2 separate regions of the Homo sapiens genome follow, and region 2 is linked to region 1. The links come from fine-mapping of genetic effects on gene expression. Tissue or cell type: visceral fat. Region 1 holds a variant in brackets; the other region holds the start of a gene. All regions are shown on one strand. Distances are from middle to middle. Region 1 overlaps FIGN (fidgetin, microtubule severing factor). Region 2 holds the start of FIGN (fidgetin, microtubule severing factor).

Evidence for each region.
Region 2: FIGN starts here. The variant in region 1 is fine-mapped to the expression of FIGN in visceral fat (GTEx, PIP above 0.99). The same link has a PIP of 0.9 or more in nucleus accumbens, ovary, sun-exposed skin, thyroid, tibial nerve and unexposed skin.

Annotation. Positions count from the first base shown.
Region 1 is chr2:163,610,012-163,622,422 of GRCh38, forward strand. FIGN (fidgetin, microtubule severing factor) reads right to left here. Exons shown (of 3, transcript NM_018086.4): 3 at 1-1,795. Among named protein-coding and RNA genes, the nearest start is that of FIGN, 120 kb to the right of the region's middle. RefSeq lists an enhancer at 11,513-12,014. The variant G/A (reference allele first, on the strand shown) is at 4,675.
Region 2 is chr2:163,728,778-163,741,188 of GRCh38, forward strand. It overlaps FIGN (fidgetin, microtubule severing factor), which reads right to left and starts at 7,231. Exons shown (of 3, transcript NM_018086.4): 1 at 7,061-7,231; 2 at 6,126-6,295. The coding sequence starts at 6,150. It overlaps LOC107985957 (a long non-coding RNA gene), which reads right to left and starts at 5,164. Exons shown (of 2, transcript XR_001739759.2): 1 at 1-5,164. RefSeq lists enhancers at 7,838-8,354, 8,355-8,870.

The sequences.
Region 1 (12,411 bases):
GTTCTCATCCGACTGACTGGACTATGTTCCTCATTCACTTGAGAGGAGAGAAGCATGTCAATGTCACTAACAAAAATCACCGAGGGCTGGCGACACCTGGCCACAAGAAAAGAGGCATGGATAATTTTCTCTGCTTCTCCTAACCACTTGGCGACTAGTCCAGAACCGGCAATTTTGAAAAATGTGGCCCCCAGCTGACTAGCGATGCATCTGCCCAATAATGTTTTGCCTGTCCCCCGAGGTCCAAATAAAAGGATGCTCCGAGGTAAGGCCGTCAGTCCACTGAACGCGTCTGACCTCAACACTGGCCATAAAACCTCCTCTTTAATGACAGCCTTCACCAGGTCGAGACCAGCAATGTCATTCCAGTCCACTGGAGGTCCTTGGGTGATAATCTCATTGGTTACCAGGTCGATGAGGTGCGTGTCAGTATTCTTCAGTTGCTCGTCCACAGAGTGGTTGGATGAGGTAGCTGCACGGAGTCCAGGGCCTTGCATTGGGTGAGAGAGGAGCTGCCTGTGCTCGTCCCCATGCTCACTCATTACTGGCGATGTGTACTTCCCAAAGGATTCACTGGATCTTGATCCCAATGAATTTTTAGCAGTACTGTAGGAAGGAGGGGTCAGAGCCCTACTGGACTGGCTGCTGAATTTCCTTTGCTGTTCAGAGGACATTAGCTGCTTCGTTGGCTTAAATGCTAAGGATGATGTTTCAGCACTTCTGTCAAAGCCATTCCCCCGATTTGTGTTTGAAATGCTGTTGTCGGGCATTCTGTACATAGGACTCTGTGTAGATCTCTGTTGGCCATAGCTGTAATTTCCATAACTGGAGTCCATATCTCCTTGCCCTGCCATGTAGAAAGCTTTCCTTTTGAGAGAACTTGCTGAACTGTTTGTCAGAGCCGACGGTGCAATAGGTGTCAAACCATGGCCCTGGTAGGTGTAGCCAGGAACAGTGGTGGGGGGTAGGGGGGTGGGAGCAGGAATTCCTGAAGGCAGGTACGCTGAAGGCGGAGGCGGTGCCCCCCCAGGGCTGTACCCAGACCCCACAGCAGTCTGAGGAGGATAGCTAGCAGACGGATAGCTGTAACTGGAGAGGTTAGAAGTCCCATTGTAGCCTGGGACCAAGGCTGGTGGCGGAGGAGGTGGTGGTGGGGGCTGTAGTAGCCCAGAGCTATGCAAAGGAGACGGATGAGGTGAAGGAAGTGCAGGTGCTGGCTGGCTACTATAAGTAGAATGCAAATATGATCCGTTGTATCCTGGGGCATATTCCTGAGATGGGAGCCCTGCATGAAGACTGGGTACAGTGTGGCTTCCACAGGTACTACTTGAATAACTAGGTTCTGTCAGGTTGCTGGCTACCCCAGGAGAGCTTCCTATACTCGCAGAGACATCTGCTGGAGGGAGGGCTGAACTGACTCCAGCTTTGCTGGCAGTGATAACATCCGGAACACAGTTCATGGGATAAACAGCTTCTGAATTCAAGGAAGGCTGCCAGGGTTCACTTTCATTTTTCCGACCGTTCACTAGTCCTGATGGTGTGTCCGAATAGTTGCTGAGTACGGGTCGGTCCACAGGACCTTCCAAAATGCCGGAATACTTCTCTGCATATTTTTTTAGTAGGTTGGATGCAGTCAGAGCAGATATGTCATCATTCGCCCAGGCGTACTGATAGGTGCGCTGCAGATGACCTCTGTAGGCTTCAACTTTGTGGGCAGGAGACCGAGTGGTTGAGGTGATGTCAAAGTGCTGTTCTGGCCACTGGGCATGCTCTGGCGTCCACTGCATCTTCAAGCCTAAGAATTTTGGGGGGAAAAGAGTTAATTTACTTAAATAGGCATCAGAACTCTTAAAGCTTTTCCCCCAATTTCTTTTGTTACCTATTATTTTCCATTAATGATATGCATACTTTAAAAGATCTACACTGTTTATAATACCTATTATGATCCCTATAATAAGTACTCTTTAAAATGGACTAAACTTCAGCCCTGTTTAAAAAGCACACTGAGTTTAAAATATAACTCTGTAGTTACCTATATTTTTTGCATTTGTAAGGAATAAGTAAATCTATTTCTGTCAAGCCCATCAGCTTACCTACTATACGCACATACACAATCACATATATATGTACACACACATTCCTGTCAAATTAGAATTCAATCATAGGTTCTTAAAATAAGCAGACATTTTAAATATCTTGCACATGGCAGTATTAACATGTACAATATCTAGCTATTCTGTCTGTTCACATCACAGTTTGTTTTACATTTTAAGCAATATAAAAATGAGACACAGCTGACAGATCACATCTAGGATACCTCTCTTATTTGGTACTGAACACCTAGTTAGCACAGTATAATGCTCCCTGCGCAGAACAATATGACACAGACATAGCAGGTCATTCCATAATCCAACTCTCATCTAAAGTGGTCCACGACAGTTTCAAATCTGCTTCGTGGAGTGCAGCAAAGCAATCTCCCAGGCAGCGCTCCATCGCTTTCATCGCACAAAGCCTACAACTCGGTATGAATTACAACTGGCTCCTTTCTGCCTCTCAGTTCTGTTGTTGAGTCTCTGAAAAAAAAAACAAGCATCACTTGTCTGTCGGTCTTCTAGCGTTCTCCCTCCTTCTCTTATAATCCCTCCTCCCCTTACAGCCTGCAAGGTACTAAGAGGGGAGAATGTGTGTGTGTGTGTGTGTGTGTGTGTATTTATACACATCCTGTCTTATACATCTTCATATATATATATATATATATTATATATGAGAGAGAAAGAGAGAGAGAGAGAGAGAAAGGAAACTGAGGGGAAAGGGAAGATAAGAATGGAGAGAGATTCTGGATTCTAACTCTTTCAATTTCTATAGGAAACCACGTAGGGCATACGCTAGAGGAGTACAAGTAGATAATGAGATGGTCTGGGTAATTCTATCATCTGCTGGGTTACTAAGTGAAGCAAAGTTGACTATGTAGCAAACTACAAAATGAGCATTTTCTCATTTAAGAAAAAAATACTAAGCAGTCAGAATAATTTGAATTTTAAATTGTAAAGAGACTTTAGAAATTACTTTATTTCACAGATTAGGAAACCAGGGCCCAAAGCGATTTATAATGTACCCTCGAGGTCTCACATACAGTTAGTTACAGAAGAGGACTGGTACCCTGTTCTCCTTTTTCCCATTGCTGGCTCATCTCAGTCTAATCTCTGCTTGGTTTAACACTTCCTATTCTGGTACAGCTATATTAAGCATCTCTCCTTCATCTTTTTTGTATTACCCAAAGTGAATTTTGCAAACTGTCTTGTGCCCTCTGGCAGAGATGCCTTGATAAGGAGGAGGCCTGGTCTACATGAAGCATCTGTGGCATCAACCCCCTTCTGAATTACTACAGTCTATTTTGTCAGTTTCTACCCCCTTCTGTGCTCTTCCTCCAAGCTCTGTGGCTCTTCATTGCCTGACTCTGGCTTCTGACATGGCCGGCTCTGACTTACTGCGATAAACTGAACATAACACACAGTTTGGTAACAGAATGGCATGTTGATTCCCTTCTGACTCCCTCTTCCTTGTTTGCAAAACCACTGCACCAGACACTGGAAGTTAATTAGCAGGATGATGCTGTGCTAATTGTGTTAATTTACAAGGTTTTAGTCAAAGAGAATCATGCCAGGGCTGGCACTGCTGTCATGCTTCCGACTTAATGATTAAGAAATACTGAAAACAAGGTGGGAAGGATTGCAGTAATTACACAATAAATGAATAAAGCAACAGGATTCATTTGCAAATATATTTTACTGCAATTGTACTCATTTGCATTTTGATTTTTAAAAAGGATCCATGTAGATATTCATTTGCAAATCACAACTCAGTTAAATTAAGTCTGAATGCTGCACAGTGTAACTTAATCAACCTAAATATATGTATATACATATTAGTAAAAATTCTAAAGACCTCAGTTCTCTTGTACATGCAACAGATTCTTTCTTCAATTTCCCTCAACTACCCCCAAAATTCATATTTATGTTTTAAAACTTTATATATTATTAAATAATCTCATTGAATGGGAAAATAGTATTATAAAATCCTGATGAAATGCAGCTTGCATCATTTCACTCAGAGAAACTCTGAGGATGAGTTCCAGGGAGAACTAAAGTGGTATTCTTAATTATTTCTGCTTTCTCAATCATTACTTTTTAAGGGGGAGGAAAACACACCGCAAAATGGGTGAAATGACCGAAACCACACTTAAAGGGGAAAAGCTGCAATTTTAATGAAGCAGCATTTCAGGAATCATACTTTCATTAAATTCAACTGGAAATTATTAAGAGCAAATCACCAGGAACCAATCGCAAGTAATCAGTATCTAAATGCTTCTAGTGTCGTGGGATTTACTTCAAGCCTTATAAAAAGGAGAGAATATTAATGTGACTGTAATGTAGAACTGTCTAAGAGACCTACAAATTCATTAGTCCTGTAAATTATTTCTAGGGAATTTCTATTATGGTTCTTTTCTTTAAAATATTATCAAAATACAGAGTAGAGAAAATAAGAACACACATATGCTGTGAGTATAAATGTGATTAGTTTGATACAGAAAAACGTGAAAAAAAAAGTCTTAAAGGGCTCAACAAATAATTTAGAAGTACAGGCAATGGAATTTAGCACAACACACACACATAC[G/A]TACGCACACATAAGTTAAAGGACGGCTTCCTTTCAGTTTGCTGAGCTAAGCCATTGTTAGCATAAGTTAATAAACATACATAACAAATATTATAAAGAAATATACTTTTTAACTCAAATGAAACTGCTTATTTTTTTAAAAAAACACAGGAGGTGGGAACCCCCCACCTGTATTAGCTTAAGTAATGTTTTCTTGTAAATATATTATTCATACAAGAGATGAAAAAATGATTTTAATAAGTTATAATCACTGTAAAAGACAGTAGTATACAGTTTAAATAGAGTGTCCATTTCATAGGGTATTTTTGCATGGTTTAAGTCTAGCAAAACTAAATTTCGTAAGATTTCTTTTTTACCTGAAATTAAGCAAAGATCATATTTATCAAAATTATCTATTTGGAACAATTACTGGATACACCATTGCCTTTTGATTGTCATGCTATTTTTGGATGTGCTTACAAGATAATTGAAAGATTATTTATTGATGCATAGTAAATAACAATAACCTTTGCAGAGCTGCAAAAGGCAAAATTGTATTTTGTTTAAATACAAGGCAATGGACTTGTTCATATCCCCTGAAACGAGAATTTATCCAGTGCTTTAAAATCATTAATGTTATTTAAAAGCATAAGCTAATCTAACCACAAACTAATTCTTGATATTAGCAGGAGCTGAGGAAATCAGTGTTCAGGAGATTGTCTTGGCCTTCGAAGTACAGAGCCTTTTGGTTGGTTCCTTGAATTTTAACACTAACTGGAAATTGGTAACCAAATTTATTTTTTTGTTGTTATTGTTATTGTGTTTATTGGTGGTGCTATTTCTGATATGAAATGGAACAAAACCACAGAGCCAAATGTTTTCTGAACAACAAAAACATCCTGCTTTGTTTGACTGTATTGCAATTATGTGTGAGTCAGAAGCAATACACCTGTGTCACTTAACTTGGCACTCAAATAATGGGTTGAGTTTTAAAAACAGCTTTTATATGGTTTCTCTTCAGAACATGGAGATGGATCTCAGAAACAATACTATTTTAACATTATTAGAAGCATGACTTTAGAACAATAACTCCTACTGTTGTTTGGAAATAGTTTAAATAGGTACAGTAAAAATTCAGAAAACAGTGGAAAGTAAGAAAAATAGTTTTTAAAGATAATTGAAGAATTGTTGCAAAACATCAATTTTTACTTTTGAAAGGATCAGAAAAATCTTAATACAGCTGGCAAATTTCATCATGCAACGTGTTTTTTGAAAATACACAATCTAATAGAAAATTGCTTTTAAGATAATTTAAGTGTTACATAGGAATGACAGGTACTAGAGTAAAACATCTGAGCATTGTTCTTATTTTATTGTTATGGGATGACTCCATGTATATATAAATGAACAAATCCATATTTCCTATATAACTGGATAGTACGGATAACATTTGCCATTCTTACCATTACTGACCATTTGATAACTTAGGTTTAATTACTAACCAGTTACTGCCTTGTTGCTTTACTTTTTCCATTTTGCTCTTTAACTAGTTTCGAAACAAAACAACTATAGCATCCTCTGAAGTTCTGCCACAGCTATAAAATTTTAAACAGTAATATAGAAAAATGAAGGGTATAAAAGCAACTTTCAAAATGAGAGGAAAATTGGAAATAAAAGGTTAGGTCTTCTAGAATCTGTTTTTAGCATATATTCATAGAAATATCAATGTGAGGCACTCACTACCCAACCCACTCCTTATATACGTGTACTATTCAACAGTTCATCAGGTCTAAAATAGTTACTCCCTTTTACAATGTTCCCATAGGGTAATTTTGGCTGCTAGGGGCTCTGCCTTCATTTGTAGGTTTTCTCAGACTTCCTAAGGGCAGGGACCTGAGGCAAACACCTGCAGGCATGGCAGGTTTGCCTGCTCTAAAACAGATGCATAGCACTCACACAGGCCTGCATGACAACATTACTACACCTATTACATTTCTTTGAGCTATTGCACCTCTGAACCTTTCATTATTTTTTAACATTAAAAAAATTAATATAATATTAGCAAGGGTTTCTCTGAAAAACAATCACTACTGGGGTAAATACTGTAAAGTAATTATAATACTTTACAGCCTCTTCTTTCTGATGCAACAGATTTATCATCTCTTGGGTTGGAAATGGCAGAACTAACATACAGAGCATTCAAAATTTCCAGTAGAAAGTAGAAAATTCATTGGCTAAAAATACAGGTCTATGCAGTGAAGAACCTTCTGAAAGAAGGATTGTACACCTCCTGGCACTGCAAACTGGCCCTGTGCAATATCTACTTATTATCATTCTTCAATGGGAGTGATGACCAAATGAAATGTTTGAGGAGACTAATGCAGCCTTGTCTACTCATCCTCATAAGCCAAGAGGCCAACACAGCATTATCTAGTATTACTAGTACTAACTCATTTGATCTGGAAATTTCTTCAGCCCATTCCCCGATCATTCTTGGCTTTAAAATATGGCATAAAATCTACAAGTAACAGAAAGGGAAAAAAGTGAGGAAGAAGCACTGAAATTACGTATCATTTTTACCTAATTTTGTTCCATCTTTAGAGGACCAAAATTAGAAGATTTTATAAGCTGAATGTAACAGAGGGGCTGTCAAATTTTAAATTTAGTCAATAAAAGATGAACTATGTACAAAGCATTGTGGTTCAATGCTAAAAAGGAGGATCCATTTTCTATAAGGTGATGAAACCTTTTCAACTCTCTTTTTCACAATTTCACAGTCTAAATTCTCCAAAATTAGACTCTTTGATTTTAGAGATTAACAGAACTTTAAAATGACCTAACCATTCCAGACATCCTCACTTTTCGATTGATGTTTCACTTATAATGATGTCTTATAGGATTGGATACTATTTTGCATAATATAGTATTTTATTTGGAGCCATTGATAGATTGTTGGGATAGAAAGGGACTGAAGGAACATAAAGAAGGTTCAAGAATTTTGTTTCACGGTGAAAATTCCAGCCTGTAGAATAAGACCACTGGCAGCATTGCTTACATCATCACTTATTTATTCTAATCTTGGTTAAGTTGCTTAAGCACATCATACTCACTCAGCTGTGATATGTGGACAATAATGGTATTATTTCACCTTACTGTATTGCTATTAAGATTACCTGAATAATATTTTGTGAAACTATTTCCCAACTGTGAACTGCTACACAAACATTTCTTAGTATTCTTTTATTTTGAAAAGGCCAGGGGTGCATTAAAGACAAAACAAAACAACACTGGCTAGACAGAAAAAAAGTAAAATCACTCCCAGAATTTATAAGTCAGTTTTCCTTCAACCTCAGGACAGCAACTGTAAATGAAATTTTCCAGTGGGACTGTTGGTTCCAAGAAAGATACAGAAATTCTCTCATTCTGAGCAAAACAAAGAGCATAATCTCTTTAATCAAAAAGGTGTCAACATTTTCAAATGTTTTCAAAGTATTTTATTTATTTTTGATGTTTCCTGTGACTCAACATTTTAGAGATTAAAACTAAGAAATAAAGTACTTAGAGGTTGAAGACTAGTTAAAACTCATTTTAAAACCTGCAGTTTCAAAATAAGATATTCTAATTATATAACAATACTGTCAAATACTTTTTTCTCTTTAAATCATATTTTCACACCTCAAGACTCCAAATTACAATACATTTTGCAGCAGCCTTCTCAACCCATTCCATTGTATTTGCATAAAACAATGCTTTTTTTTTTTTAAACAATTATGAAGGCATTTCTGGCTAAATGGGTCTTAGTAAATATAGTTCAGATACCTCACCCTCTTACAGAGAAATTGCAATCTGACAGCCTGAGGGTAACATATACCCTGCAACTGTGTTTGGTTTGGCCAGCACAGGGCTTTAAAAATCACTCGACTTTATGTTTTAAAAGATCCGTCTCAAAAAAAAAAATCTGTATTTCCATATTTCCCATTTTTCAGACAAGATCTTACAACACTTCATTCGTGCCTGGCAACAGCTGTCCGATTCTGGGGACCAGCTCCCTCCTTGGGGCATATCCTACCCTTTCCACTTTGTCATGGTGCTCCTACCCCCTGACAATGTCAGGTATTTTCATGGTATCTACCAGGTCACACAGGCATTTAAATTTAGGACTCCACTTTAGAGCTTCAACTCCAGTTTCTTAACTTACATACCTTTTCTTGAAATCTAGAAAGTATTCAGCTCTAAAAGTTAAAAACATTTTCCAAATACTTTTTTTTATGATAAGAGAACCTCCCTACCCTCTTACAACACAACACGTGGGAAATAATTGATAACTTTCTTATTGATACAGTGTCATTAGTACAACAGTGTGGAATGATGAATAATGAATGGTATCTTAAAAAACTGGTCTCAGATGCTGTTTCAGTGTTCCCCCTTTTGCTCTAATTTGTCAGATATTATTTTTTGCTATTTTCCTATCCATTTTCACCATTCCTAATGTGCTGTATGTTTGATACCACAAACCAAAGCTTAATTTAACAGTGAGTGAAGCATCTCCTATTAGTTGAATACACGAGCATTAGTACAACTTTTATAAGGTTATTTAAGCTACTCCAAAGTTATGCTTCTTATTTCCTACAGAAAGTTGTTGGGTAGATGGTACGCAGGTAAGCAACAGATCTTGTTGTCTAAATGTCTTTATTTTGGGCTTCATAAAAGCCTGTATTTAATGTTACAGGCACCATGACTTGGACTAGGATGGTATTAATATATACTCTGTGTTTAAACTAAACTTGTAGGTAGCTTATGATCTGAATTGGGTTCTCTACAATGCATTAAATTGTATCCATAGCAAGAAAATATTCACCCAACAAATATGACCAAGTGTAACGGTGACTATTTTTGCCAAAATTTCATGTGGTGGATAAAACTTGATATGCATGGGTCTGATTGGTCATTATTTTTAATATGCAATAAAATGGCTTGCATTTATGAGAATGAATGCATAAGCATTATGCAAAGCAAATTACAGTGATGAAAGAAATATCATTTTTAGACCACTGAGCCTAGATTCACTATATGATCAGGACAGAAACCATATCATTTAAAGCAACCCAGGAAATCATGATCATAATTCAAACAAGTAATTTTTCCCTTAAAATTTCCTATACTTAAAGTATACAAGTGAACATATTATCATGCTCACACACAAATCCACATAGTTTAAAATTATAACTTAGATCTATGATTTCTGTGTGGGGGTAGGGGGTAGGTTTTGTAAATGTTTCTGTGTAAAATTTTTGAATAATAATCTAAAACCAAGTAAAAAAAAGTGTACAAAACTGTGTATATTCTATGGTAAGTTATTCAGAAGGATACATGAGGATGCGTGTACATGCAATTTAAAATATACAAATAATTCACACTCTGAATCTTCCTAAGTGTCAGGTGTCATTAACTATTGTAAGGGAAAGAGTCTGAGGTAAAAGGGCTGATTTTCCCATATTTAAAAACTGTTATTTTGTTTATGCTACCTCTGTGAATTTTAGACAATTTATAATCAGTTTAAATAGCACTTTGTAGTTAACCTTTAAAGTTGTTACTTTGCAGCCTTTCATTTCTTATGCCCTCTCTTTCCTTTTTCCGTATACATTTTTCAATCCATTAAGGCCATCTACCCTTCCCCCCAGATCATCAGGACATACCACGTATGTCCATAGGGACTGCAGTGGCTAATGAATATGTATGTTCTGTGTCACAACAGAGCACTACCCTTGTTCTGCAGTATCAACCCTCTTATGTGTGTAAATAACAGGTGAGCTGTAGCATGCAGGGATAAATGGGGTTAACACAACCTGAGAGCCCCATGCTATATTCATAGCATCCAGCCTGTATGATTGATCCATAAACAGAGTACTAAATGCCAAAAGTATTTTGCATTTTCTGAGTGTTTTGAATCTTTATTTTTTAAAATATTTTGCAGAGATAATAATTATCATCATCCTAAAAGTCTGAGGTTATTCCAGTTGATTCTCAAAATACTGTTTTGCCGTACAAAATATATTTGCATTTTTATTTAAGAAACATCTGGCATGATACCAACCTTGAATTATGACATGGCTAGTATATTTCATCAATCATAATCCTAAAATGGTATACTAACCACTAGGTGCACATATAACTCTGTGTAAATATTTGTGTGTGTGTGTGTGTGTGTGTGTGTGTTCCATTTCAACTATCTAAATGCAAAGCCCAATTTAGTTATATTTAAACTGAACTCTATTCATGTTTTGCCCAACACACCAAGCTGAAAACGGTCAATAAACAAATTAAGAAATCTTCCAAACCCCACAACCTTGCTTAAAATGAAATTTGCATTCATCTACTTCTCTGTGTTCCTCTGGAACCATACTCTAAAAAGACAGTTTACATAAGACAAAATAGATATATAAGTCTGCTTATGTAAGATTGAGCACTGTCTCATATAATTAGACAAAAGAGTAAGAATGTTATTCACATGTTGAGGGTAAAACTGTTCAACCATTCTCCTTAAAAACTTTGCTTTAGGTGACTCTAAAGTATGCAAAGCCCAGACAAAATTTGTTTGGGTTATTTATGCATTTTTCTCTTTTTGGCAATTCGTGCATTAATTTTTAATGCAATAGCAAAATAGTGTCTTGGACTTCGAAAAAAAATTCTATAGTCAGGGCTGGGTGACATAGTGCATTAATTCAGTGTCCTTCACTCCTGGGACCTGTGTATAATTTAGTCCAGCCTGAAGAAAATAACTTTGATATGAAAGTAGTGGAAAAAGCTACATATGAAATGAGTTTTGGTAGGTTACGTGTTGTTTTTTTCCAAATAAGACGTTGTAAGAAGATAAACTGATTTAGAATACAACCAGCACAGCCTAGGATTAAAAGTGAGAAGCTCTTAGCAACAGCAGTAGTTTCCTCACCTCTTCATTTTCCCCACCCTGCCCCCTTCTAGTGAAATAGACCTGGTGAAATAGACCTGAGCACCACGTATAATTGGGATCCTCTGATTTCCAGATAGACTGAACATTGTTAAGGTGCAGTGTGAACGACGGTCCAGTCATTAGCGCGGTTGGCTCTTTCATTTGTAAAAACAAAGAATGCTGCATAATGAGCAGAAACAGGAGAGGATATCAGCATCTTCAAAGGAAGTGGCATTTCCTTTCCTGGAGAGGGTGCCCAACAACCTAACCCATGGGAAACAGGAGGAGAGACTGCAAGTAAAGAAATTGTTTCTTGAGATCCCATCTCTGCACAATTTCATCTACTGTTATGATGCAAAATGCCATTATGTTAAAAAAAAGTTTAGGCTTTGGCTGAATTCAATAAATGGCTGATCCAGTCCTGTGTGTATTAATCACATGAAAAACATACAGATTCCTCTTCTTTTGCTCATGGTTCTCCAATTAATTCCAACTCAATTCTCTTCTGTTGTAAATAAACAGGGCTTACTTTGTCTCTAATATAGCAACTAAAATTAAAGTTGCTCTTTACAAAAATTAGCTGGGTGTGGTGGTTAATGCCTGTAATGCTACTGGGGACGCTGAGGCACAAGAATAGCTTGAACTGGGGAGATGATGGCTGCAGTGAGTTGAGATCATGTCACTGCACTCCAGCCTCGGCGACACGGTAAGACTGTCTCAAAAAAAATTAATAATAATAAAGTTGCTCCCAATATTGTTTTTGGTGGAGTTAAAGGCATAAAGATGTTGTTACTTCCAGATGGTCTAAA
Region 2 (12,411 bases), 120 kb after region 1:
CCACACAATACAGGGCCCTGCATTTTGTTTAATGCTGTGTGTTGCTGTCTTCAAATTAATTTTTGAACAAGATGCCTCACATTTTAATTTTGCGCTGGGTCTCAGAAATTATGTAGCTGGTCCTAGGTGAAGGTAAAAATGTCTCTTAATGGTGAGGATAGTAAGTCAAAAGATAAGCAAAAAGTTTAGAACGACATACAGAAACCCACGGCTTCACATTGCACTACCTTTAAAATTTTATCTGAGATGTTACTATTTCCAAGAATAATATTTCATCATGAACTAATGCATGAAAGTAGAGTTTACCCATTCTCAGATGAGTTTACTCTCATAAATAGTTGACATTTAATTATCAGTTGTTTAAAAAGCATCCAGTTGACATAAGGCAAACAGTTGAATTGGGAAAAACAAAATAGGTATATACATACACACATATATATTTCATATATCTACATACACATATGAAATATATATGAAATATATATATAGCTAAAGGGAGTTAAATGCAGTTTCTGTTCTCATGCCAGGAATATATCCATAAGCAAAATGGAATAAGTATGTAAAATACCAGCAGAAATTAAAACATAGCAAAGAAAGAGAGTAAAGGTATTTTCAACATAATGAAATGGGGTAAAAGAAAACATTTTATAGGTATTTTACATTTCATATTCTATAGTATAAAAAACTTTACTGTATATTATATATCCTTAATAACTGTTTGGTTAAAAGCTCCTCTTCCTATGAAAATGAGAACAGAAACCTAGTAAGAAGCAAATTTTCCAAAATTATAAAACATACTTTCTAAAAAACATTTCCCAACACAAAAATACCAATACTTAAGCTGAGCTATAGGGTAAAAAACGTTTAACCTTGGGCCTTCATATAATAAATCATGCATTCTACTTTCAAGATGTAACAGTTTCAAAAATGATTGGAAGCAGTGATACTATAAATGCTTTGTGAAAGTCATGAGAGCTAAAATATGAGCAAACATATCCATTTATACATATATTTAACATAAATACATCTAAATTGAAATTCTCCTTTGGATTTACTGCTTCTGATACACCCTGAAACAACAGCCCACCATATGCAATGTTAAGCAAAGTGTCAATATTCAAATAACAAGACAACAAGCAGATTTGTTGCATAAAATATGTAAATATTATTAACAGAAAGTGCCATATGATATCTCATGTTTTGATGGTTTCTGATCACCTATCTTTTCTGCCTCCTCAGTATCTTAGCTAAGACTACTGTTGTCAACAGGTACTTACGGATGTGCTGTATTGAGGCAGCGCTTCTGAGCAGGCACCTGTGGTGCTGCCCTAAGGAAACTTAGCATACCCCTTGCTTTTGATTTGCTTCGAACTTCAATGTACCATTTATTTTGAGTATATTCTTTCATACTCCTTATTCCTGCTATTTTACTTTTTAAAATAAACATTTCTGAAAGAAAATTGCCATTTAAATGATAACATCAAAAATATCAAAAAGATTAGTAATCAGCAATCATACCAAAGCAGCTATGCTTAAAATTTCTGCCAGAAGTTAAATGAAAAAGTTAATGCTAAAAATTCAAGTTTAGGAAAAAAAGAAGAAAATGACAAAATCCAACCATGGAAAGCACTTGCTAAACTGGCCATTTATTTGCAGTGTGTCAAAAAAATTCTTTCATTTTCAATAAACAATAATATAGGTACAATCTCTCTCTCTTGCTCCGTGTTTGTGTGTGTGTGTGTGTGTGTGTGTGTGTGTGTGAATTGAAAGGCAGAATTTTGGGACTTGTAAGCTTCTAAGTGGTACCCCCAAATAATTTCTAAGTTCAGTTGATTTCAATAAAACACTAGCTCTTGTATATCTCAAAAGAAAGACACATACATTTATTTTTTATTGAGAGTTAAAATTTATAGCTTTTTCTGAACCATTTGTTTATTCTAGTTTATCAATGACTCAAGAAAAACAGCAGATATGCTGATTAATCAAGTTCTATCGATCAGTAGCATATGTCAATATTTCACACAAACATCTGCAGAATAGTTTCTTCCAATCAAAAATTTATAAATCAATTTAAATTCCTGGTAATTAAATTTATTTGCTCTTCAACAATGAACACAGTACTTTATAAAGAGTAGTATGTGAAATCTGCACTCAAGAATATATTGATCAAAGGTAAAATAGCACCTTTCTATTTCTATTAAACCAAGGTTCTAAGAACTAGAAAGTTCAAACCTTAAAAGCCTGCAATTGTTTCAAATACATCTAGTAATTCTGTTGATTTTGGGCCACTAAAAGTGATTACTTAATTAGGCAATCATTCAAGGCATCCAAACACTCACACAGACAAAAACAGGGAAGTATTAGCATGGCTGTCTTCACCTTGACATGAACATTCTGAAAAACAGTGCAGACTCTCAAACTTTGTGGATCTGTCCCTATGAATGTCCTGAGTAAGATACTAAATTCTAAAAGGTGACAACCAGAAGCTCAGGAAAAAATAATTAACCTATAATGAAATTACCCATTTATCTTTTCAGGTGGTTTATATCTTAAACTATCTTAGAAATGCAAAGTAATAATACAGATGGTCTCTATAGATTCTTGGAAATACTACCTATTTTCTTCTCTCTGGTTACACTCTTATATTATCATCTAAAAGTAATTAATGAAATTTCTGCACTCTTGTATATCTATCAGAAGTAACTACCTACAAAAAGGTTTTCAAAGTTCCTGCCTAACATGAATAAAAACAAAAACAAAAAATATTTTCTATTTATGGGAAGGAAAAAAATATCAGCCCTGGAAACTCAGCTACAGGAGTCTTAAATATAACTAAAGAATAAAACCCCCTATTTTCACTCAGAAGATATCAGATACTGTTTTAAGAATCTTACTGATGAAATACAGCCAGGAGAAAGAAAAATACTCTATTTTCAGAAAAAAAAAAAAGATGTTTCTTGAAATAATTCCAAAGAGACCCTATAAACTGTGTTTTTAGGAGAAGAGAAAAGCAAATCAACTCACACATACAGCTTCCAAACAGAAGTCTTACCCTCTTCCAGGAAAACAACAATGAGACTTTATTACCCTGCTATGATTCTTTCATTTCAGACATGATTAATTAGCAAGTATTACACTTCTCAAAACTCCCACCCTACTCTTCCCTGCTTATTTGATGATAGACCCACATGAAATAACAAGTTGCCTCCAGCAGTGTAAGACAAGTATCCAAAAACTCTATTTTAAAGAAGAAACACTTCTTTCCTATCTTTGCCTCCCAAAATGAAGCAGGCTGCTTCTAACTGCTTTCACAATTTTGTTTCAACTTGGTCATTTTCCTAACAATACCTTTTCAATTTTAAATAATGCATACAACATATTCATTATTCAAGAACACATAGCATGTTTAATCTGATACCTCTATTTTTAAGCTGAAATTCCAAAGGACTTATGTGTCCATGCAGTTTATATTGATAACCATAAACATGCACAATTAATAAACAATAGAGACGATGTGTACAAGCATGTTTTGGGACATGGTTTTTGTAGAAATAATGTTTCTTTTCCAAATAAAAGCTAATTTGTCACAAATATAATGAAGATAAGAAACAAGCATGAAGGAGTAAAAGAGAGGAAGAACAGAAGAGGATAACTAAAATTTGAATGAAAAACTCTTGACTCTCTACATATTCTTCCAAAATAATCTTTCAAAATAATTTTCCTTTTGAACAATCTGTGTTCAAAACGTCCATTCCATGTGCACCAAGAAGCCAGCCATCACTAAATATATTATAAATGTATATTCTAACAATCATCAATTTATAAAGTCTGGGATTTCCCCTTCAACCTTTCAACTGTTACGTCCAGAAAACTTCACACATAGTGAAATCCTAATAAATAGATCTTGTTGGTTCCAGGAAACATTTTTAAAAATCTATACTGGTCAAAATATCCTTGCTTTTTTTCTGTTGTATTAAATTTAGGATCAAAAACATCAAAGCAGCTTCCACCTCGGACCTAACTTTTAGAGGATCAATGTGACAAGGCAGTCCCTGATAGATGTTTCTCTTGATAAACGACTTGTTCAAAAGAGACATTGTAGCTTTCATTTCCTGACCACAACACACTTTTAATTTGCAACAGCAGAGCTGCCAGAGTGTGAGCACTTGCCCACTTTCTAGTCTTTTAGGTTTGTAGCTCTGGTTCCTTTAGGCCGCACATTTGAGACAAACAAAATCTAAAAATAATCAGAGTAAAGAATTAGAAAACAAGAGCCAGTAACGCCACTTTATACATATACACAAGTGTCTACTTTATATATATGTATGTAAACTTTCACCCCTAGAATTCTAATATATGATAACAAGGCTCCTAAGTTAACATCATTTGCACATCGGACATTTAAACATAGGGAAATGAATTATGTGACTATTATTTAATAGTAAGCAGAGACTTAAGAGGGGGGCAATTTACACACTCAAATCTGCTGTTAAATGTCATGAATTATATAATTGCCTATGCCAGTATGTTTTTCATGAATTATTGCAATGATTATTATTAGTACTACCTAGAAATCACATTTAAGTATCAATACGGTGAACAGTCAAACCATCCAATTTCTGCTCTCAGCACATTGTCCGAGCTCCGATTTAAAATTTATAAATGTAATATCCTCCTCATCACAGGCAGCAGCCCAATCTGCTCTGAATATATATTACAGCTTTAACATCACAGAGGGAAATCGCCCATCTGGCAATCCCATTCGCTCCAACAGCTCCGGGGGAAAAAAAGCTGTGCTCTCTCCTCCTTAAAACATTTCTCAGGGCAAATTATGTGCATCTAAAATAAACAGTCTTCTTATTGATCGCTTCAAAGTCAACAAGTTCCAAATGCAAAATTCAATCAAATCTTTCCTATCGTGTAAGTGTGGTGTGTATTTAGCTCAATAGTCACCAGAGTCCAACCAGACGTGTATGTCGCGCAACGGGTCTTGTAGTTCCTCTCTTCGTATTCACATTTGTGTTAGGAGAGAGCAGTGACCACGGCCACACTACAGACCCCTGGCAGCTTTGCCCCACTGTTATTTCTTTTTTCATATTCTCTCTTTCCTTCTTTCTCTCTTTTCAGGAGGAATTAACGGTCATGGGGTAAACATAGCAACAACCAAAAAAAAAAAAAAAAAAAACAGTCTAAAGTGGACATATCCTTTGGTTATGCAAAATACTTTAACATCTTTTTGTTGTTGTTGTTCCCTCTGTCTTAATTGAATATTACAAAGTGTACACAGGGCACTGCCACAAGAGCTATTGAAAATCCCCTCTCACTCCATTTAACTGACTTTTTTTTTTTGTAAAGAAAGGAAAGAGCGATTTCAAACGAAGTCAATTTCAGTGCCTGATTATTTAATTCTGTCACAAGTTAAAAGTAAAAAGCGCTGACAGGCAGACGAGTGAATGGAAAGGGGGAAGAAAAACCTATCCCTACTCTTTAAAAGACATCAAGGACTTTGGACAATCAAAATATAATTTTTATTTTCATGTAAAAGACACCTCTTCACTTACCCGCCCCCCCCAAAAAAAAACCACACTCAGAAGAACTGATTACTCCACAAAGTGCAAACATCAAGAGCAGATAGTCAAACTGCATTAATAGATTGAGAAAAATAAAATTTTCATCCAGTCCTGTTCCTGTGTGTGTACATATATATAGATACACTTTCATTAGTTAGTAATCTTTCCCAACACTCCTGCCCTCTCCCCTTTGCCCAGCCTCCCTCCTTCAAAAAAAAAAAAAAAAAAAACCCACACTGAGTTTAACTAATTTACATACTATTTGACTTCAGCAGTTATATATATATAGTGCATTACTAGTAACGTGCAACTTCTGGATGACAGCTAAAACCGATAAAAGTGGATTCAAGTAATATATTAATCAAAACTGCAATATACAAACAAGTGATAGCAAAAGAAAAAAAAGCATGGTGACATTAAACATATATTTTTTAAAAAAAGGAATTCTATATCATGAGCAACTGCTTGCCAGGCAGTCTTCAATGGTTTTATCATGCTATTTCATTTGTCTTTCCTATTTAGATGCAAAGGAAGTAAATTCCAAAACTGACATACCATAAACACTGGTGCTACTGATCATTTCTTGCTGGCAGCACAAAAAGCTGAATTGGATTTCTCACAAGCAGGAATTCCAAAGGTTGCTTTTCATTAAAGCCACTTTTCCTCTCAGCTATCAAATGTCACTGCCTTGAAACGTGGGCCCTTTCGTCAGGTATTCATTTAACCTACATGCATATAATTAAGGGGGAAAGCAACATCAACAAAAAGGGGATCTCAGATCACAGGAGAAGAAAGAAAGGAAAAAAAGCACATGACCAGGAATGCAAGTCCATGTCAATTTCACTCACTCCCATTGAAACTAACAAGAGCTCCGGGGAGGACGGTAATAGGATCAGTGGATTGTATATACCATTAAATTATACATCTTTCTCTCCCGTTCCTTGCCAACAATACGCCCACCACGCTGTACCCCCTCCTAGATGATGTGCTTACATTTTTCTGCAACCGATCTTCTGACATTTTCTCGTTCCCCCAGCCACGAGATTGTAATTTAACCTCAACTTTTTGTGTGTGTGCAAGATTCTTATTTACACTTCTTATTTACTTAGAAGTTAGTTCCCGAAGAAAGTCTAGCCCCACCCTATGGCTCCGCTTTCTTATTTTTTTATTTTTGAAGTAAAAAGATAGTAATAAGTAAGCCCAATATAGCGAAAAGCGAGATTCTTGCAATCGCGAACTCTTAATCCCATACTATTGTTACAATGATTAAGCAGCAAAAATATGCATTATAATGTTTCAGGGCTACTTTGAACAGAGAAATTAGACAGCAGGTTGGCGTACAGAATAGAAACGAGTGGAAATTGAATTTAATGTTTACGGCACAACTGAAGATCTCTTTTAATTACAGGTCTTGGATGTATTTATATTCTTTAAAAATAAAACAAAAACAAATTTAAACAGATGGTAGAAAACTACGAAGCTCCTCTTACCTGAACGCGCGGAGAGAGAACCCGATAGGTTAGCGTAGCATCGATCCGATGTGTTTGCTGATGAATGGAAGCTAGGGTTAAGTGAAGGTGCCTATGATTTGAAATCATTCCAAGTTTTTGAAGGGAAGACGGACTGCAGCCTCTGCCATGTTGGAATTTCAAACCCAAAACAGCTGCTTGGAAGGAGCCAGCATGCCAGAGGCTGGGCGCAGGCGCAGAGCGCCGCAGAGCCAAATTCAAATCACTTTCACACTAAGAGCCAAAGATCAGTTTTCAAAGGAGAGAGGGAGAAAGAGACGGAGGCTGCCGTGAGGGAGAGAAGACGGGAGGCAGTGGCGAGAGGCGGGCAGTGGAGAGAGACGGGCAGCGGGAGGACCAGGAGGGAGAGGGAGAGGCGCACGGAGCCCGCGGAGCTGGAGGGGGAGAAAGGGAGGCGGGAGGCGAGCCGGCGAGCGAGCTAGAGACGCGCCAGAGATTCATGGGCAGGGAGGGCTCAATGGCCGCGCCGCGCCGGCCGGCCGGCCGCTCGGGTCATGTTACACGGCCGGGGCCGCGGCGGCCGCCCAGCCTCGCCGATGCGCTCACGCGGCCCGGAGGGGGCCCCGAGGTCATGATTACGCGCGCGGGGACTCGCAGCTCTCCCTGCACGCACTCTCTGGCGGCCCAGCCTGGGGAAAGGGGAGCAGCGCCGTAGGGGGAAGGGGGCTTTCTTTCCCACGCGTGACCAGCCGGCCCCTGCGCTCCCCGGCCTGCGTTGGAGGGCCCGGGACAGAGCCGCGCTGCTCCCCGGCCCGCGGGCTCTTCCCTGCCGGTTCCCGGCCCTCTCGACAGCTGCGGCCCGTCCGCCCTTCCCCACCCCCTCTGCGCACGGGACGGGATCTGGTCTCGAGAGCCTGGACCTCACCGGCACCCTCCCCGGGGCCCCCAGCACCAGCCAGAAAACGACTTGATCTGCTTAGAAGAGGCAACTTCGGGGAGAAAATTCGCGTTCGCCCAGTTCCCCTCCCCCGCCTCCCTGTGAATAAATAAAATCCTAAGTGTCTAGGTGTGCGGTCCCCTCTCGCGCTCCCTGGCTCCCCTCCCTACCTCCCCCAGGCGGCTCGGGCTGGAGAAAGCAGCGCCCGGGGGGCCCTGGTGTCGGCGGCTGGTGCGCAGGCATAGACGTTAGGCTTCTGCCTTCCCAACCCCCCTCTATGGAGTAATCTGGGGACCCAGGAGTGGGAAGAGAGTAGGGGCTTTGTGGTGCTGGGAGCCGAGGAAGAATGAAATGTGCAGTTGAGTGTGTTGCTCGCATCCCAGGGAGCAATGCAGTGCTGATTGTCTGTTGCTGAGATAGCCTTTTGTTCGGAACATAAGGTTTAAGAAACACACACACGTTTTCTGGGGTCTCTTGTTAGATGTAAATGTGCGGCATCCAGACGCTTACTATGCAGTGTAAGCTCAGTTGGTTTACTAATCACCCCGCCCCACCCGCAAACAATCAGGATCATTTGAATGGGAACCTCATTCAGACTTCTAGGCTGAGAGTATTGCCTTCAACCTATTTCATTCTAGACTAGCCAACCATCCAACTGAGATAATAAAGCAAACAATAACATTTGATCATGATGTCTACGAGATAATGTGCCCGGCAAAGTTCTTTAGGAATTGTAATGAGAAAGAGAGTGAATTGGGTCATAATTTCTCTTCGTTTTCATTAAATATGACTTTAATAGATAAATGGTGAGTTTATACTTTGGCCTGGTAGACATCCAGTCTTCTATATTTCAACGAAGCTAAGAATGAAAGAGGCAAATTATATATTCCACCAGGAGCCCATCAAGCTGAAAATGTTACCTTTGAAGGTTGGAACCGAAAATGCACTTGCTGAGGACTGACCCTCCTCATAAGGGTGTTCACATTTCCCCCAGCTTCTCTGTTGTAGATTTGATAGCCTAAATTGCAGCTCTCCAGATGCTGAAATGCAGCTCTTTAAAAATGCCAAATATATACTTTGAAATTAATTCCATTCACCTTTTATGATGTTCTTACCTTTGAATGGATGCCTTTAGCTAACACACTGAGAAATAAAAATTATTTCAGTTAAATCTAGGCAGATGACAGAATTTAAAAGACAAAAAAAGAGTGATTCGAGATCCTAAGAAATATTTCTAAGCAATGAGATTTCTATTTGGAATGGATTTGACCTTTCTGTGAATTTTTTAAAAAAGGAGTCTTCGAAATAAAACAGAAGAACTTTATTCTGATGTAACAGAGAACACTGAAACCTCTTTAGTTATATTTTACAAGATGGCTTTGAAAATGATATTACGAAAAGTTGTTCATTGGATTTTACCACAAAGAAATAAGTGTAGGGAAATATCTGTGGGTCACTGTTGGATTGAGTACAGATGAATTAAAAAAAAAAAAAAAAACTGTGAAGCGCTCATAATCGCAGTTATTGCCCATTTGGGGAATGACGACCAAAAGTCCTCTGGACACACAGCAGATGCTCTGTGCAATTCGGGCAAAACTGCTCTGTTCTTGTTTGTTAAAAAAGTTCAGAGCTCATCAACCTTTAACATTAAATCCTAGCGTTGAATTTACAGTTCCTTGTGTAAATTCAAATAGTGAATAAAATATATAATACAGTGCCCACTGAATATAAAAACAATGTATTTTGATGACAGACTTAAAGCCATTCATCTGTAATATCTAAAATAAAACAACCCCTGCTCTTTAAAAAGAGGAGGAAAAAGTGTGGTCAGCAAGAGTTTATTAATAGATAATAACTGTACCTTTCCAATTCCCTTATAGATTCATTTGAAATACACATTATAAAAAAATCATTCAACATGCAAATAAATATAATTAACTTTGGAATCAAATAATTGGAAAACTGTTCAAAAGAGCACTGGATAGAGGTACAGAGTTTCTAAATTGTTCAAAATTACATATACTCTGGGAATAAAAGACACTTACATAATAGAATATACATTATGGGACTTCCATAATAATAAGATACACAGGAGAGTTCGTCATTGCACTATTTCTCCCTTTTTTTTTAAGTATAGGTAAAAGTTGCTTTTCTCCAATTATTTTAAGCAAAGGAAAATAAAACTTGACTTTCTTTTCCACAGAGATTCATGGCATTGTTTGCGATGTTCAGTTTTTGTTGTTTTAATAAAACTATCTTTAATTATGTGGTATGATTAAAAAGCACTTTAACAGTCATCATATTCTGTATGCATTTATCTTCAAAACTTTTAATCAAAAGAAATGTTTCTGGCTGTAGCTGACATCCATCTCTATAATATCTTTTGAAACTTCTTGATATAACATGAGAATTAAATATTGAGTGTTTAAAGGAAGTTGATTGGCTAGTCAGGGAAACAGTTATTTCAGAAAATAATAAATTTGACTAATTTTTCCCACTCTATTAGCAATATCATTTCTCTTTCTATTTTACTTTTTAAATGCACAGACATTATAATGCATAACATTTTGACTAATATGTGAAATTCTAATACACAGTATACTCAAACTTGTGCTTTTTAAGAAAATCAGAAGAAAAATCAACATAACTCTTCTTCAGGAGTGTGTGTGTGTATGCCTTCCTTTCAAGATAATTCAGAGGGGAATTCTACTTTTTTCTGCTTTTTCTTCTCAAAATAATGTAAGCAACAACAACAAAAGTGAAGGTTAAGGGAATAAGCAAAGTGATACTGAATGTGATTTTGCAAATGACCATAGACTTGTCTGCACTGGACTAAGGAAAATATGAGCTAGGCTGGACACAGAGATGTGCTTTACCTAAGTGATGGGAGAGGAAAGGAAAGGAAAAAAAATCAGTGGAGGCAGAAGGTAGACAGCGGGTAGAAAAGATGAGGGAGATGTAGGTCACAAGATGCTTTAAGGAAAGAAGTTTGGAGGGCTATCATGTATAGTTTTTCATAAAATGCTAAACGCAATTCAATTTAATTTTTCAAATATTGTTTTTTAGTTTTGAACTTAAATGTTAAATATTTTAATAAAACATTAAACTAATAATATATTCTTCCAAACTCCTGGGTTTCAAAACACATTCTAGAACTTAGTAGCTGTTTATGAAACTAGACTTTTTCTTTCATATTACTCACAAAAATCTGAGGTAGTTCTTACAATAATGCAAATTAGTGACAAGATAATTTTTTAATGCTTCCATAAAATTGCAGTATAAGGGTCATGATTTTCACTTCAATAAAGTTACTAAGAAGTCCTTATGTACCACCCTTTCCCCTAAAAAAAAAAAAAGAAAAAAAGAAAGAAAAAAAACCACAAAAGCTAGTGAAGATCATGACCTCATTGAGTAAAATTACTCAATTTGCTCAGAATGACACTCAAATGCAGGTACTGTCAAAGGATATTAGTGTGGTTCATACATCTCCTCAGTGATCTAGCTCTACAGTAGAGACAAACTGGAAAATCCTGTGATGGGTTCACTTAAGATGTTTTGCTTTCTTCTATTAACCTGAGTATTACATTTTTAAATTCACATATATTTATAGTGTGTGTATATTTGCTGGAACTTTTGCCTGATTTTGCATGGTTCTCAATTTCATTTAGAAAGTATTCAATGCTTAATATAATTAAAAGTACTACACTACAAATTGCAGAGGATTTGAAGAAAAGTGACCTTAACATTTTATGGATGAAGCCAGATAAATATAGCCCAAAGTGAATGATAGAAAGTGCAGTTATAAAGGAGTTCTGTCTAGAGGAAATTGTGAGTTCTTTTGTGAAGGACAGGACAGTTTTTCTAGACTTTGTCACAGCAATCTATTCTTTTTTTTTTTTTTAATTTTTATTTGTTGCAGAGAACAGATATCACTCTGTTGCCCAAGGTGGTTTCAAACTTCTAGACCGCAGTGATCCTCCTGATTTGGCCTCCCAAAGTGCTGGGATTGCAGAAGTGAGCCCCCACACTTGGCCTTCTCATAGCAATTGTTATGCACCAATAAAACAGACCACTTATAGTTTGCATAAACTGTGCTGTTTTTCCTCTCTATGCCTTGCTTGACAGTGTGCCCCCTGCCTGAATTGACTTTTCCTCTCCGCTTCTGTGGGCGAACTCCCTTAAGACACTCAGCACTTAGCTCCTCCAACCCACACCCCAACCTTCCTAGAGGCACTTAAGTATCTTTCCCCTGTTTGGACTCTATTTCTCTTTCTCTCTTTGTACCCTCACATCATTTTAAGGGTGTTCATGTCTTTCACTCCTGCATTAGATTTTGAGCTTCTTGAGGGCAGGCAATTATCTTCCATCTTTGTTTTTCCTCCATGCCTAAATTAATTGGGATAATTCAACATACATGCTTACTGGGGAAATTAAT